Homo sapiens: one gene and its partners. The protein of the gene in region 3 purifies or fractionates together with the protein of the main gene of each other region. This does not show direct contact. Each region holds a gene or a part of one and is shown on either strand. Other genes may lie near its edges.

Region 1 (3,500 bases), on a different chromosome or scaffold from region 3:
CCTTCATCCTCACAGTGGAAGGCCAACAAATAATTACTAAGTGGCTGCCATAGTTAAGACCCTGGGTGAGGTACAAAGACAGTTAAGAAAAGATCACTGTGGTGATTTACACTTCCACATCTATCATCTCATTTATATTTGACTCCCACAGCCACCCCGAGTGGATAGGTTGGGCTGGAATCGTTTTTACAACTTCCCTAGACTGACATTTCCCCAAGTCATCTAACTAAGAAGGGATACAAAATCAGTGTTTGGATTTCCAGTGCTCCTCCCACAGTGCTGCGGGGGATACCCCCATTGCCTGAAAGCTCCCCTGTGCTACCTGCAAGCCCAGGCTTATACCTAATGACTGCTCATATAGGGCCTCTTCCGGGAGGCTGCCTCTGACCCCTCCACCCCAAGGCACAGCTCGTGGGTTCCTCGGCCCTTCTAGAACTGTACCTGCCCTTAACTGCATTCCAATTAAACTCTGAGTCTCTGAGGACCAGGACCAAGTCTCATCCATCTTTGTATCCTCAATGCACAGTGACACACTCTACATACTCAGAAAAGCTGGCGGAATGCAAACATTGAACCACACACTTGTGGCTGGCCTGAGAGTTTTATAAGGAGATTTGTAAAGCAAAAAGAATAAGTCAGGAGTGAGTAAAAATTCAATAGCTGGGACACCCTGGCACTGATCAGTCAGGGACGGTGGCTGTGAGTGAACAGAGATTGCACAGCGGATCGCCACAGAAAGTCCTAATGTAGGTGCAGGTACAAGCCAGAACTAGTGTTTGCTGGTTTCATGAAATACCAACCCACACCTGTGTTCTGGCTCTACTGCTCGTGGGCTGTGTGACCTGTGGCAAGCGGGGTAACCTCTCTGGGCTTCAGTGCACTCTTCTGTAAAAATGGAGGAAAAACAGGCCTCACTTCACAGGGTTGTTGTGGAAACTGTGTCATAAGGCAGCCTCAGCGTTTCAACCTATGCTGGGCATATCTAGTCAATCCTCATTATTTGTGGATTCTGTATTTACAAAGTCATCTACTCGCTGAAATTTATTTGTAACCTCCCAATCAACACTCGCAGCAGCTTCAAGGTCATTTACGACAAGCACAGAGCCTGATGCAGAGCTGAGGCCAAAGAAGGAGCGCCCTCCTTCCTTGCTTCAGCTGTCGTACTAGCTACACGTTTCCTTTTCACGGGCTATTTATTGCCATGCTTTTTTGCATTTTGGTGCTTCTTGTTGGTGATTTCAGTGTAGTGCTGAAGTGCTGCCTAGCGCTCCTAAGCTCTGGAAGGTTGTGATGTGCTTTATGGAGACAACACGTGTGTTAGATATGCTTTGTTATTGGTCAAAAAATGGTATTAAAGGCCATTAAAGAAAAACACATCACTAACCCCAGTGAGTATAAATGCAGAAATTCTTAATGTGGCAAGAAACTAGTTAATTCTACCAGTTGCAAGCACCATGCTGCGCTGTGGAACTTTACACAATACAGAAACTGTGGCCTCTGTACCCCTGAGGAACAGAAACCCAAATGCCCTCCAAGACACCTGCATAACCTTCTTGCTTAGAGCTCGAGGGACCTGAGCCTTGAGCAGCTCGGGAATGGGTCGCTGGGGGCAGTGCCTACTGCAAAGCCTTGATCAGAGACTGAAGCCGTCAGAGGGAACTATGACTCAGTGCTTTGACATTGAATAAAGACACTGTGTGTCAAGAGACACACAGACGTCTAAAGTCTACCAGGGCAGCACCAACATCATCAATCAAAGGGCACCGTCCATCTAGAGGCACGGTCCATCTCTAGAGGCACGAGAAGCCTTATTTCTCCCTGCAAGGAGGCTGACTCTGTCAAAAGAGGCTCAAGGGCTGAGTGTGGTGGCTCACGCCTATAATCCCAGCACCTTAGGAGGCAGAAGCAGGAAGATCACTTGAGGCCATGAGTTTGAGACCAGCCTGGGTGACAAAGCGACACCCTGTCTTCATTTAAAAAAATCTTTTTAAAAAAAGAGGCTCAAAGAATCACCCTGTGCAATCAACCAGCAGCTGTGCCAAAGCCCTTCTCTCTGCTTCCTCCCACCCGCTTGATATGAGTTTTTTCCAAAGGGAGACAATACTGAGATCATCCTCACCGAGAAGAAAGTGGACTCGGTATAAATCAGATTTCTGGAGCAGCCGCCGCAGCTTGGCCTGCGTCTCGGTGGCCTCTGCACCCTTGCCACTGGCGGAGGCCCTCTGCAGCAGCACCTCTTCCAGGTACAGCACAGCTAAGTGGGTGTGATACTCTTCTTTCTGCAGGAAACAGGGGGAGCCAAGCAGACAGACAGTGTTTTCAAGTGGGAAAGTCAAAGCTCTCCCCTGTCAGCCAGGGCTTGGAGACCGCGGCTGCACTGACATGAGCTGGGCAGATGCTCACTTGCTGGATCGAAACCCTCTCAGAAACCATGATACTGAGATGAGTTTACCATCTATGGGGAATAGAACAAAATGTCACCTCTTATTTCAAGAAGTAAGGGCCACAGAATTTAGATAACCTACAAAAAGGTATAGCTCCCTTTATTTCCTTTAAGGATAATAACAAAGAAGGAAAAGAGAGGAAAAATAAAAGCTGAGTGGGTGTGAGACGGACGGAGAAAAAAATAAAGCTACCTATTGCTCCAGGTCTCTTTCCGCAAGCCTCAAGGCCGCCATCAGACCATCAACAAGTACGGATGGATCACCCAGGGAACAGACATTACACAGAATCACATGCCAAAAAGTGTTCTAGTTCAATTCCGTCTCTCCAGCCCACACTCTTTAGTCTAACTTCTGCAGTGCTCACCTGCAGTCTCTTGTCTATCACAAGATGTTCCAGATACTTCACAAGGGCTTTAGGGTATTTTTTAAGGCAATTGATAATGTCGTCTGGATTAAAACTGTTCTTCTGCTGTTCATCCAAAGGTCTCTTGGTGAAAACCTGAACTCCGACCTGAAAGAGGAGCGACAATACAGTGACTGTGCTTCCCAAACCCACCTTTCCTTTAACTTTATTTTGGTCATTGCACATTCAAGCTTTGGATAAAATCATCACTTAAAATATGATTAAATTATTATGTATGCACAGCTTTTTGTATGTCAATCATATCTCAATACAGTGGCTTAAAAAATATAATTATGGAGAAAAACAGCCCAGCATGAAGCACTGTCAAAGGCCAGAGGGCAAAAAATCAAGATAGAAAAGCCAGCCTATACCCTGAAGTCCTCCTCACACACCCCATGCAAATTGGAAACTGAAGAACAAAGCATTTACTGGTGACAGATTTTGACAACCTATAATAATAACATTAAGATCATCCAAGAACAGGGATAGCCAGTTGCAGAACAGTATGTGAAAAGATATCAAAAGTGCTGAAATTTCTGTACAGTAAACTCACTTCTCTGAACATGGATTATCTACTCTGGGTTATTTATGATAGATGGTTAATCTGAGATCTGAGCTTCCAGTCCCTGAGTAAGTTTCCGGGCTGCCTTCCT
Region 2 (2,441 bases), on a different chromosome or scaffold from region 3:
GGCTGAAGATTGTTTTGTATGATACTGCACAGCATCAGGCATTTTAAAGCAGATCTTTACTAAACAGGTTAATGAGCTAACAAGCAGGTTCTCTCGTCTTTGGGCTCTTTCCTTTCTGAGTTGCATATTCTATTTTCTTGTCCCCAAGTAGAGACTAGTACTACAAAAAGGGACCACATTTTTCAAGTATTTCTAAGTATAAAAAACAAAACAAAAATCTCTTAGGAAATGTCTAGACCTCCATTCTTGGATTCCCTTTCTTTCCTTTTATTTTAAAAAAGAACAGTACCCCTCTTTTAAGATGCTGTCTTACATTAATGAGCATCTAATGGAAAGAAGGTATGAGTTGCACTGAGGATTAGAATAGTGGTGCGTTAGTGGCATTATCTATAAATACACTCACCTAAATTGAAAGCTAAGAAGGAAATGTAAATATAATATATATTTATATTTGATGTAATATGGACATCTGCAGATTCTAATAAACAAGGACTATTGCTGATAGTAGGCTGTGACATACTGTCTTGTGAAATGGTTTCCTTGACAAAATTTAAGCTGAGCTTAAAAGCAAAAAACAAAAAGTACACAGAAATATTTATTAAAATGTAATACAGTTTATTGAACTTTCTAGGTATGGAGTTTGATGGACAGGGCTGCCTTTAATGAGTGTGAAGGTCACTAAGTCACTTAGACATCTCACCGTGGAAGTTTGTGAGCCTGCATTAGGAGATAGACTGATTACCATACATGACATAAAAAGGAACAGTGGATAGCTCATACTTTATGGTGGTTCTTCTCCTCCGAAATAATATACTGCAGAAATCCCAGACAGAGCTCCTTACAAACCTTTAATTGTAATATATTTTTGATGATTATTCACATTGAATGCACAGACCAAGAATTCAGTGAATGTCATTTTTTAAAAAACTAATTTGTATTGTCTGCTCTAGTGATACAAGTTTTACTAGTGATAAACTATTTTAATCAACCATACTATTCTTATGGAAAAAAATATCTATTTTGGCAGGTTTCTGTGCCTTTATTTCCCTCTTCTGAAAAAAAGTCTGTGTTTTCATAGTTTGGTTTGCATTGTATATCAATAATTAATCAGGAATGGGTTTTGGTGCCTGAAAAATTGGCCATGGAGGCACACCAAAGCTTCAAGCACAAGTCTTGTACATGGGCCATCACTGTCTGGTTTCACTTCGTGTGTTTCCTAAACACATTTAGCTGCTTTTTTAACAAACTCAGCCCCATACTTGAGTCCCTTGTTGTTGGGAGCATTTCCAGGCATCTTTTAAGGGAACTGTGACAAACAGCCTCGGGCAGATGAACACGGAGGCTCTCTGTTGTCTGTCTCTGAGATCTTTGTGTCTGGGAATGCCTAAAGATTTTATTTTTTTTTCTTTGTTTTTATTTTATTTTATTTTATTTTTTTGAGACAGAGTCTCACCCTGTTGCCCAGGCTGGAGTGCAATGGTGCGATCTTGGCTCACTGCAACCTCCACCTCCCAGTTCAAGTGATTCCCCTGCCTCAGCCTCGCGAGTAGCTAGGACTACAGGCGCATGTCACCAAGCCCGGCTAATTTTTGTATTTTTAGTAGAAACGGGGTTTCACCATGTTGGCCAGGATGATCCTCAATCTCCTGACCTCGTGATCCACCCGCCTTGGCCTCCCAAAGTGCGGGATTACAAGCGTGAACCACCCTGCCCAGCCAGAAACTAGATTTTCTTTATGCCTCCACCCCTTCTTATTCATTTACTTTACAATACCAAAATAACAAATTGCATAGGAGTGTGGGATGTGGTTTCTGCCTTCTAGAGAGAGATCAGAATTAAACTAGTACTATGAAATGTCCTTTTGAATGTTAGGTCAAGAAATCCATGTACAGAGTCGTGCACTTCATTGGCTGTAACTGTCAAACTTGCCTTGTATTAGAAGTTAAATCCCATCGTAAATACATCACGAGGCCAGCTGTGTGATTTCTGAGACCTAGATGAGAGTCCATTTACTTCAGCCTTTGATTCAGTAAATGTTAAGCAGCAGAAGACTTCGAATGGTTGAAATTCATTGTTACAGGATTTAACTCATAAACCAATGAGAGATTTTTTTTTTCTCTGCAATGGTTGCTAAGTCTATTCCATGTTAACACTGTGGAAATAAATATGAAGATGTGGACATTGCATCGGGGCTCTTTTCTGTGGAAGAGAAGGTGGTGGGATTGGGGTGAAGGGCTACACTGGAGGCAGGAGATAGGGCTGTGCTGTGTTGGAGCCGGGGCTGAGGGTAGACCCCCCAGAGATTTGACATCTGTGACACCTGTGAAATGGGTTCGGGTGCTCATGACTCCATAGCTGGCGGAGGAGCACAGCACAGCTGTTGCAGGGGCAGCTAAGGTTTCCTCTGAAAATCTGTCAGGAGCAAGGACTACTTTGGCATT
Region 3 (5,949 bases):
TTCGAGACAGGGTCTTGCTGTGTCACCCAGGCCAGAGTGCAGTGGTGCCATCACAGTTCACTGCAGCCTTGACCTCCCGGGCTCAAGCAATCCTCCCACCTCAGCCACTTGAGTAGCTGAGACCTCAGATATGTGCCATCACACCCAGCTGATTTTTTAAAATTAATTTTTTGTAGAGATAGGGTCTCATATGTTGCCCATGCTGGTCTCAAACTACTGGGTTCAAATGATCCTCCTGCCTCAGCCTTCCAAAGTACTGGGATTACAGGCATGAGCCACCATGCCGGGCTGGGAGGCGGAATTTTGTTCAGTCTAAAGATAAGCTTTTTCATAGCTCTGGCTGTAGTGGGAGGGAGCAGAGGAGTGAATGATTGTCAGTTGGGAGGGTGCAGAGTGGGCTCCTGCCCTAGGGTGGAGGTGAGGGTGGCTTAGGTGAGACAACACAGAGGCCCTGTTCAGCCCCACGTCCCCTCCCTGTGCTCCCTCCTCCTCTCTCCTCTCCTGCAGGCGTGGGAGGTATCATCATTCAGCAGATTTCACCAGAGGCAGTGGAGGAGGCAGGTACCTGAGCCAGAATTCAGAATGTCTTATTCTCCACTTGACTCTGCCACTAACTTGTTGTGCAACTTTGGGCCTTTCCCCAGGCCTTCATTTTCTTTTCTTTTCTTTTTCTTTTTTTTTTTTTGAGGCGGAGTCTCGCTATGTTGCCCAGGCTGGAGTGCAGTGGTGCAGCATCATCTCGGCTCACTGCAAGCTCCACCTTCTGAGTTCACGCCATTCTACTGCCTCAGCCTCCCGAGTAGCCGGGACTGCAGGCGCCCACCACCACGCCCGGCTTATTTTTTGTATTTTTAGTAGAGACAGGGTTTCACCACGTTAGCCAAGATGGTCTCGATCTCCTGACCTCGTGATCCACCCGCCTGGGCTTCCCAAAGTGCTGGGATTACAGGCGTGAGCCACTGCGCCCGGCCATTTTCTTAAATATCTAATAAAAAATATATAGCAAATGCAGTTTGTAAACTATGACAATATGACCACGCAAAAGATTATTATCTTCCAAGACTGCTGGTCCAAGGAAAGGTCAGTAATAAAGTGGAAGCATTGTAGCTTATGGAATGACTGGTTAGATTTGGGAGAAGCCTTAGCAATAATCTAGAATCTGCATAGATAATACATCTGAGGATTGGGCTTTGTGGTTTACAAAGCATTTTTTTTCCTCTTTTGATCCCAGCCGCTTGTCTGGACTGATACAAAGCATTTTTATTAGTTTGTCTTATTCAATCCTCACACCACCTCAAATTTACAGAGGATATGGATCTGGTTAACTTGTATGACTATGTAACCTCATGTCAGTCCACAGCACTGCCTGGAGGTGGGTAGAGGTGGTCCTGGGCTGGAATCCCAGCCCCAGTGGGACCTTGAGCAAGTTACTTTAGCTGTCTGCACCTAAATTTCCTCACTGGCAAAACAGGAATACTGGTGGTTCACACCTGCAATTCCAGCACTTTGGGAGGCTGAGGTGGGAGGATTGCTTGAGTCCAGAAGTTCAAAACCAGACTGGGCAACATAGCAAGACCATCTCTACAAAAATTAAATAAATAAAACATTTACAAGGGTTGTGGTGAAGATTAAATGAGATCACTCACGAAAAAGCTCAGCAGACCCTGATGTGCAGTAGGTGCTCAATAAATGTTAGCCAGCAAAAAACAAACAAAAAAAAACTCAGCTAGGAAATTGCAGTACTGGGCTTCTGACTCCAACCTCAGTGTTCCTTGCCCCACATCAAGCTGTTTCACTTCAAATCCTCTCCATTTCACAATGGAGTCACCCCAGGTTGAAGGAGTGAACTGTGCTTTGGAGGGCTGCCCTAAGCAGGCAGCAAAGAGACAGCTTGGTCTCCAGTGACCTGAAAGAATTATTTATTGCCCTGAAGTCCAGTATACCAGTTGCCAAAGGGAAAAGCTTCCTTCCAACTGGCTCAGCAAGCTGACAGAGGAAGAGTCGGGTTCTTGCTGGGGCAGTCATGCAGAGCTGGGATGACAAGTAGAAGGCTGGCAGATCTGTCTCTGGGCAGATGGATCACCTGATACAGATGCTGGGGCCTGAGCCCTGGGATTGGCCCAAAACAGGGCTGTGTTGACCCAACAGCTGGGCATTGGCATCCTGTCAATCTGCCGAGAGCCTAGAAATAGTGCGGGGGCAGTCTGCTGGTCTCATTGTGTCAGAGGAAGCAACCATGCAGGTGCTAACCAAGCGTTACCCCAAGAACTGCCTGCTGACCGTCATGGACCGGTATGCAGCCGAGGTGCACAACATGGAGCAGGTGGTGATGATCCCCAGCCTTCTGCGGGACGTGCAGCTGAGTGGGCCTGGGGGCCAGGCCCAGGCTGAGGCCCCTGATCTCTACACCTACTTCACCATGCTCAAGGCCATCTGTGTGGATGTGGACCATGGGCTGCTGCCGCGGGAGGAGTGGCAGGCCAAGGTGGCAGGCAGCGAAGAGAATGGAACCGCAGAGACAGAGGAAGTCGAGGACGAGAGTGCCTCAGGAGAGCTGGACCTGGAAGCCCAGTTCCACCTGCACTTCTCCAGCCTCCATCACATCCTCATGCACCTCACCGAGAAAGCCCAGGAGGTGACAAGGAAATACCAGGAAATGACGGGACAAGTTTGGTAGACCTTGGACACTAGGGAAGGTAATGGTGGCCATGCTGGTGGGTGTGAGTCTACAAAGGGACATTCCAGGAGAGGAGAGGGGGCAGTGGTGCAACCCACTGGGAGAGGAACAGCCTGACTTTCAGACAGAGCCACTCTTGGGTCAGGGTATTGGGACCACAACCTAGGAGGGCCTAAGACTAGGCCTGTGTTACTATCCTTCTGACCTCAAATTGGCAATTGCAATGAAGTGATATGGAAACAGAGGGAAAAGTGGCCTGTGAGGGCATATCTCATATGCACATATATGTGTTTGTGCATGTGTGCATTTATTAGTATGTGAATGCTTGTAAATGTGTGAATTGAATGAGTGTGTTCTCATCAGTGACTTTGTTAAGAATTTAATTGAAGAGGGGCCAGGCGCGGTGGCTCACACCAAAGCACTTTGGGAGGCCGAGGCGGGCGGATCATGAGGCCAGGAGATTGAGACCATCCTGGCTAACATGGTGAAACCCAATCTCTACTAAAAATACAAAAAATTAGCTGGGCGTGGTGGTGGGTGCCTGTAGTCCCAGCTACTCGGGAGGCTGAGGCAGGAGAATGGCATGAACCTGGGAGGCAGAGGTTGCAGTGAGCTGAGATTGTGCCACTGCACTCCAGCCTAGGTGACAGAGGGAGACTCCATCTCAAAAAAAAAAAAAAAACTTACCTAAGGCATGCACATTGATTTAAGTGAACATTGTGAATTCCATTTGTGTGACAGTGTTTCCCAACATTTTTTCAAGTCACAGAACATGGAAAATTATTATATGGCACATGGGGATACATAGGTGAGGCTGCTTGCAGTACTGCTACAACAGGCTGGGGGTACTCTGACCATCCCAGGTTGGAACCCACCAAACGGGAAGCCGAGGGACCAGTCATGGCACTCTAATCCATTCCAGGCAAACTGGAGTATGCAGACATGCCTGTTGGGAAGCCCTGTTGTATGTACATATGAATATGTGTTCCAGTCTAAGCCTACATGTCTATGCACAGAGGGGCTGGGGTGGTGAGTGTGGATGAGCAGCAAGCTAGACAAGCAGGTGGTGGCAGAGGGTAGGAGGTGGGAAGGGGCCCTAGCATGGTCACCACTAGTTCACTCATGGATAAAGACTAGTATTAATAGAAATTGGACCACAGCACCTGCCAGTTTTGATTCTGTGCCACCTGCCAGCCCTGCTCCCACAAACTGGTCTCATTAGTTGTAAACAACATCCACGTCCATTGCAATCTCAAAACCACCTGATGCAGCTATGTAGGAAAAGATTCTCATCCCCAGTTTACTAGTATGGAAATTGAAGCCAGAGAGGTGAAGTGACTCACCCAAAGTCACACAGTAAGGAGACAAAAGTAAGACTGGCCTCAACTTTGAGCTGAGTGTTCTTTCCATCGTACCCACTGTCTGCCATTTTGTGTTATCTTCATAATCTGTGTGAAGGCTGCTCTGTAATTATGCGGAATAAACATGGGACCCCCAAACACAGAGCCTATGGAGAGCTCTGCTCCAGGCATTTTCTCAGCCATTTTTCCTTCTCCCGCTTCAAACCCAAACTGTCAACCTCAACCCTTCTTCCCTCTCCCGTTGAGGCTCCCTGAGTTGCCTCACAGAGGTTCTTCTTGAATTAGATGGGGCTGTGTCAACAGCTCTGGGTTCACGTTCTGATTCTATCACTAATGAGCTGTGGGGCCTTGGGCAAGCTAATTCATTTCTCTGGGTTTCAGCTTCTTCACTGAATAATAACAGTGGTTGTAAAACTAACAACTGGCATTTGAATAGTTTTAAGATCACTTTGCATATCCATTATCTAATGGAATTATCATCCCCCCCCACCTTTTTAAATTTTGAGACGGAGTCTCACCCTGTCCCCCAGGTTGGAGTGCAATGTGCAATCTCAGCTCACTGCCACCTCCACCTCCCAGGTTCAAGAGATTTTCCTCAGCTTCCAAAGTAGCTGGGATTACAGGCGTGTGCCACCACACCCAGCTAATTTTTTTAAAATCTTTAGTAGAGACCGGGTTTCACCATGTTGGCCAGGCTGGTCTTGAACTCCTGACCTCGTGATCCACCTGCCTCGGCCTCCCGAAGTGCTGGGATTACAGGCATGAGCCACCGCGCCCAGCCTATCATTCCCTTTTGCAGATGAGAAAACTGGAGGCCTGAGAAGTAAAATGAGTCCAAGTTTACTCAGTAAATAACAGCCAAGATGTGAACCCTGGCCTAATTAGTCTAATTCTTTTCCTCTACAGTGGTATTCCTTAGAGCCTTAGACTTTTGCAGAGTGGGCTCAAAGTGGGAACTGGGCATGGCAGAGTGGGTAGAAACCACACTCTGACTCACTCAGTTGCTTCAAAGGCCAGAGCAGCAACTCTACGCCATAACGTTTCAACACACCCTAACCTGATTTTCATTCAGAGGCAATATGGTATAGCAACAGTTAAAAATCTGGGCTCTTGTTCTGGCTCTTCCATTGACTTCTGTATTATCCTAGACAACTTTTTTTTTGAGATGGAGTCTCACCCTATTGCCAGGCTGGAGTGCAGTGGCGCGATCTCAGCTCACTGCAACCTCCACCTCCCGATTCAAGCAATTCTCCTGCCTCAGCCACCCGAGTAGTTGGGACTACAGGTGCACGCCACTACACCCAGCTAATTTTTTGTATTTTTAGTAGAGATGGGGTTTCACCATGTTGGCCAAGATGGTCTCAATCTCCTGACCTTGTGATCCTCCCCGCTCGGCTTCCCAAAGTGCTGGGATTACAGGCGTGAGCCACCGCACCCAACCTTTTTTTTTTTTTTGAGATGGAGTCTTGCTCTTGTCACCCAGGCTGGAGTGCAGTGGCGCCACCTTGGCTCACTACAACCTCTGCCTCCCAGATTCAAGCAAGTCTCCTGCCTCAGCCTCCCGAGTAGCTGGGATTACAGGCTCACGCCACCATGCCTGGCTAATTTTTGTACTTTTAGTAGAGACAGGGTTTCACCATGTTGGCCAGGCTGATCTCGAACTCCTGACCTCAAATGATCCACCCACCTTGGCCTCCCAAAGTGCTGGGATTACAGGCGTGAGCCACCACGCCCGGCCCTAGACAACTTATCTTACCTTTCTGTATCTGTTTCCCTGTTAGTAAAATATAGCAGAGAAATCAAATGAGTTATTCCAGCTCTGACAACCTAGGATTCTCCTTACAGTGCTGAGGCACTGCCAGTTTTCCAACAGCAACATCAGCATTGTTCTTCCTGCTTCAATGGGCATGT
Region 4 (3,500 bases), on a different chromosome or scaffold from region 3:
TCACAATACTAATATTGAGAGCATCTGCATTTCAAACAAATGTACCATGGTATGAACATTATTTAAACCAAAATTCTGTTTGCCCATCCATCCCTGGGCACTGTCTTGCAATATCAGGTCATCTAAGTGGCAAACTGATGTTTAAAAAAAGAATATATGTCAGAAATGAGTGAAGTATGATTTTGATGCATGGTCTTTTCACTTTACACTTATTTCAATTCTGAGGTATGGTTTGTATCTTCAACTTATATTTCCTATGATTGTTTTGTTTTTCTTTGCTTTTACATTTTAAAAACATTTTTGTTCATTAGTTTCTCTCATTTTTGTAACTATCGTATCACTACAAATGAAAATGAACATTGAAGTGTCAAACAAATTACTGTTCTCCAACAAACACGTGTTTCTTCGGAGGGCATTTACCTACAGCCACACCAACACCAAGTTGTTTAGTTTTTTTTTTTTTTTTTTTTTTTTTGAGATGGAGTCTCGATCTGTTGCCCAGGCTGGAGTGTGGCGGCACGATCTTGGCTCACTGCAACCTCTGCCTCCCAGGTTCAAGCAATTCTCCTGCCTCAGCCTCCCGAGTAGCTGGGACTACAGGCCCACACTGCCATGCCTGGCTATTTTTTTTGTATGTCAGTGGAGATGGGGTTTCACTGTGTTGCCAAGGCTGGTCTCGAACTCCTGAGCTCAGGCAATCCACCTACCTCGGCCTCCCAAAGTGCAGGGATTACAGGCATGAGCCACTGCACCCGGCCCCAAGGCTGTTTTTCTAAAGGGTAACTGACAAAACAAGGTCTAAGGTCATCTCTCCACCAAGGAACAAGTTTCCTAAAACAGTGATGGCACTATGAATACTGATGTCAATGGAAGCCAGATAGTTGAGGAAACAGGTAATTTACAAAGATTTATGAAAAATTTCTCACTGTTCCAATTGCCTTGCATTGTTTTCTTTCCTGTGCTGGCTCATGGTGTTCTACAAGATGTTCTGCAGTTCCAAAAGGCCAGACACCTCTTACAGACACTGATGAGGAAATTGTCTCAAGAACTGAGCTGGGTAGAAAAGCCACATCTCAAAAGTAGGGATCAGCTTTTGGGTTTGTCAAATTTCCTTATTATACACCTCAAAATAGACAAAAATACTGAGGATGATGGTGACCAAAACCTATTCACTGCATGTCAAGGATCAACTGCTGGAGGAGCACTCATTTATCAAAAAGCCCAATTTACATACGCATTACTTAATCTGACAGGCACAGAGAAAGGAAATTATATAGCATAGGGCAATGTTGCAGAAGATAGGCTGTGCTGAATTGTTCAAAGCCAAAACTTCAATATTCCTATGGGCTAACTTATCCTAGAATAGCTGATAAGCCTCAGATAACTTTTGATTAAACTTACAATAACCCAATGGTTAGTTCCTAAGGTCCCAGGTGATGCTACATTAAAAAGAAATAATTTGAACTGGGAAGAATATAATACTCCAAGGATATTAATGACCATGTAAAAATGTACACAAAAAATAAAACTGTTTCAAAAGGCAAAGTGAGAGAACGTTAAGCTTACCTGCAAGTGAATCAACAACAGCATTATATTTTCAAAAATAGTTATAAACCTTTGATGTTCTGATTGCTATCTTCCTACATCCAAGATTTAAAAACTGGTCATGCATAGAAGAGTTCCTTTAGGATTGACTGGGTTTTAAAATTCTAGGAAGACAGAATTAGGGACTATAGACCATCCTGGTTTTTTGTTTTCTAGCCCCAAAGCAGCAAAATTAAGCATTGAGAAACCAATTCATATGAATGAGGCAATAGCAACAACAACAACAACAAAACCCAACATGTTTCGTGACATATACCTTGGAGGCATTTTGTATATTTGGAAATTCTCATTTGCATTTTTAGACAATGGAGTAACTCTTTTGCAGGTTGTACTAAAACACAAACACACCACTGAAGAAACCAGACTAGGAATTTCAGCATTCATTCGATGTTTCTGGAAGTCAAGGAAAGTAGCCAATTAAAAAATAACTCAAACACTGCCTCTTCTTCATGTTCAGCAAGCACGAGATTAATGGCAGAATGGCTTACCTGGGACAGGGCTCCTTCTTGAATTTAAGTTTTGAGAATCCAAAATCTCTTCTGTTTGCCCATCTGCTTCTACCTCTATTTTGTTCTGAATCTCTTTTGCATCTTCACTAAGGCAAGTTCTTATGCTCTCGTCCTCCTCTAGGACTCTCTGGACTGTGATGGCAGCACTCGGAGAACTAACAGTAGTGGCAGCAGCAGGAACAATGACTGGAGTGTGAGGAGGAGAAGCTGGAGGAGTTGGAGGAGTTGGAGGAAAGGAAGGAACTGTGGAAGGGGTGATGGGAGCTGGGATACACTCCAGTTTCATTTCTTCTGGGGGATTTTCGAGAATCTCCAATTCAAGAGTCAATGGCAATACTTCCTGTTTTACTATTTCCACAATGCTCTCCGTGGCTGATAATTTTTCGCTAACTCCATTTATTTCATTAATTAGGTTAGTACTAGAAACCAGTGGAATATCATTAGGTGCTACACTACAGGGTTTCTTGCATATATCATCATCATTTTCATTTGTTGGTAAAGGGTCTGATGTTTCTGTGCAAGATGTGAGGCTGGGTATAGGAATTGTGTCTTCTCTTGGGGATGAGAGTTCACATCTGTCATCTATAGCAGTGGTGAATATTGGTTGGCTACTAAGAGCAGAAGAGGTGGGGGCTGCAATTGTACTTCGAGCAACAGAAGAAACAGTGGTAGGTGATGGAGGCAGAGGAAGCTCTGCTATGGATACTATTGCAGTAGTTTCAGATGTCTGGCCTTCTTGTTCTTTCTTCTCTCCACTGAGGACTAGCCTAAGGACTGGGGAAGGAGACTTTAACACTGGATCTGGTTTTGGCTTCTCCTCTGGGGAAAAAAAAATAAGTTTTAAGAATAATTCTTGGATCAGAGACTACATATTGCCTTGGGCCAATTCTTTCAATGTCTTACCCTAAATTACAGGTAACAGAACAGAGACCAATATATTAGACTTATTCTGGTATGCCAAAAACATTGTCTCTTTTCTTTTTTTACTTAAACCTACTATTTACTTGGTATCCAATACATAAAGTCTGTTTTGGAGTAAGAGAAGGAATCTATTCACCAAAAAATTATATATCAAGAATACAACTGAAAAGCTCACCAAAACTGAGGCTAAACCATTCTTGGTTTAAGAGTGAGGCTTTTCTTTAAGGTAGGAAAACCTTCATTTCTACCACTTCTCGTTCCCTAAAAAACTTTTTTTCCAAGGATATATTACAGTGGCAAAACAGTACAAGGGCAAACAATTAAAAATTAAATTATTATAAAGGGACTGATGTTATTTTTTATTCTATATATTTTTGTATTTGGGGAGATAATTTTTATTTTAAAAAGTATTACTTGTATAAAAACTCAAGATAAAGCATCACATTTTATTTAATGAAATTTACT

The links. Proteins that work in one complex are often made in the same cells at the same time.
Region 1: the proteins of THRSP (region 3) and TGFBRAP1 purify together in Homo sapiens (affinity purification with mass spectrometry; one large-scale study listed by BioGRID and IntAct). This does not show direct contact.
Region 2: the proteins of THRSP (region 3) and GAPVD1 purify together in Homo sapiens (affinity purification with mass spectrometry; one large-scale study listed by BioGRID and IntAct). This does not show direct contact.
Region 4: the proteins of THRSP (region 3) and EIF4G3 purify together in Homo sapiens (affinity purification with mass spectrometry; one large-scale study listed by BioGRID and IntAct). This does not show direct contact.

What each region holds. Positions count from the first base shown.
Region 1 is NC_000002.12:105,270,736-105,274,235, forward strand, and holds part of TGFBRAP1 (transforming growth factor-beta receptor-associated protein 1), read right to left. Parts: intron 2,956-3,500; coding exon 2,809-2,955; intron 2,280-2,808; coding exon 2,120-2,279; intron 1-2,119. UniProt on the Homo sapiens protein: Plays a role in the TGF-beta/activin signaling pathway. It associates with inactive heteromeric TGF-beta and activin receptor complexes, mainly through the type II receptor, and is released upon activation of signaling.
Region 2 is NC_000009.12:125,362,826-125,365,266, forward strand, and holds part of GAPVD1 (GTPase-activating protein and VPS9 domain-containing protein 1), read left to right. Parts: 3' UTR 1-2,441. UniProt on the Homo sapiens protein: Acts both as a GTPase-activating protein (GAP) and a guanine nucleotide exchange factor (GEF), and participates in various processes such as endocytosis, insulin receptor internalization or LC2A4/GLUT4 trafficking.
Region 3 is NC_000011.10:78,061,646-78,067,594, forward strand, and holds the start of THRSP (thyroid hormone-inducible hepatic protein), read left to right. Parts: upstream 1-2,215; 5' UTR 2,216-2,236; coding exon 2,237-2,677; 3' UTR 2,678-2,696; intron 2,697-5,949. UniProt on the Homo sapiens protein: Plays a role in the regulation of lipogenesis, especially in lactating mammary gland. Important for the biosynthesis of triglycerides with medium-length fatty acid chains.
Region 4 is NC_000001.11:20,939,398-20,942,897, forward strand, and holds part of EIF4G3 (eukaryotic translation initiation factor 4 gamma 3), read right to left. Parts: intron 2,934-3,500; coding exon 2,094-2,933; intron 1,999-2,093; coding exon of another isoform or gene 1,979-1,998; exon of another isoform or gene 1,847-1,978; intron 1-1,846. UniProt on the Homo sapiens protein: Component of the protein complex eIF4F, which is involved in the recognition of the mRNA cap, ATP-dependent unwinding of 5'-terminal secondary structure and recruitment of mRNA to the ribosome. Functional homolog of EIF4G1.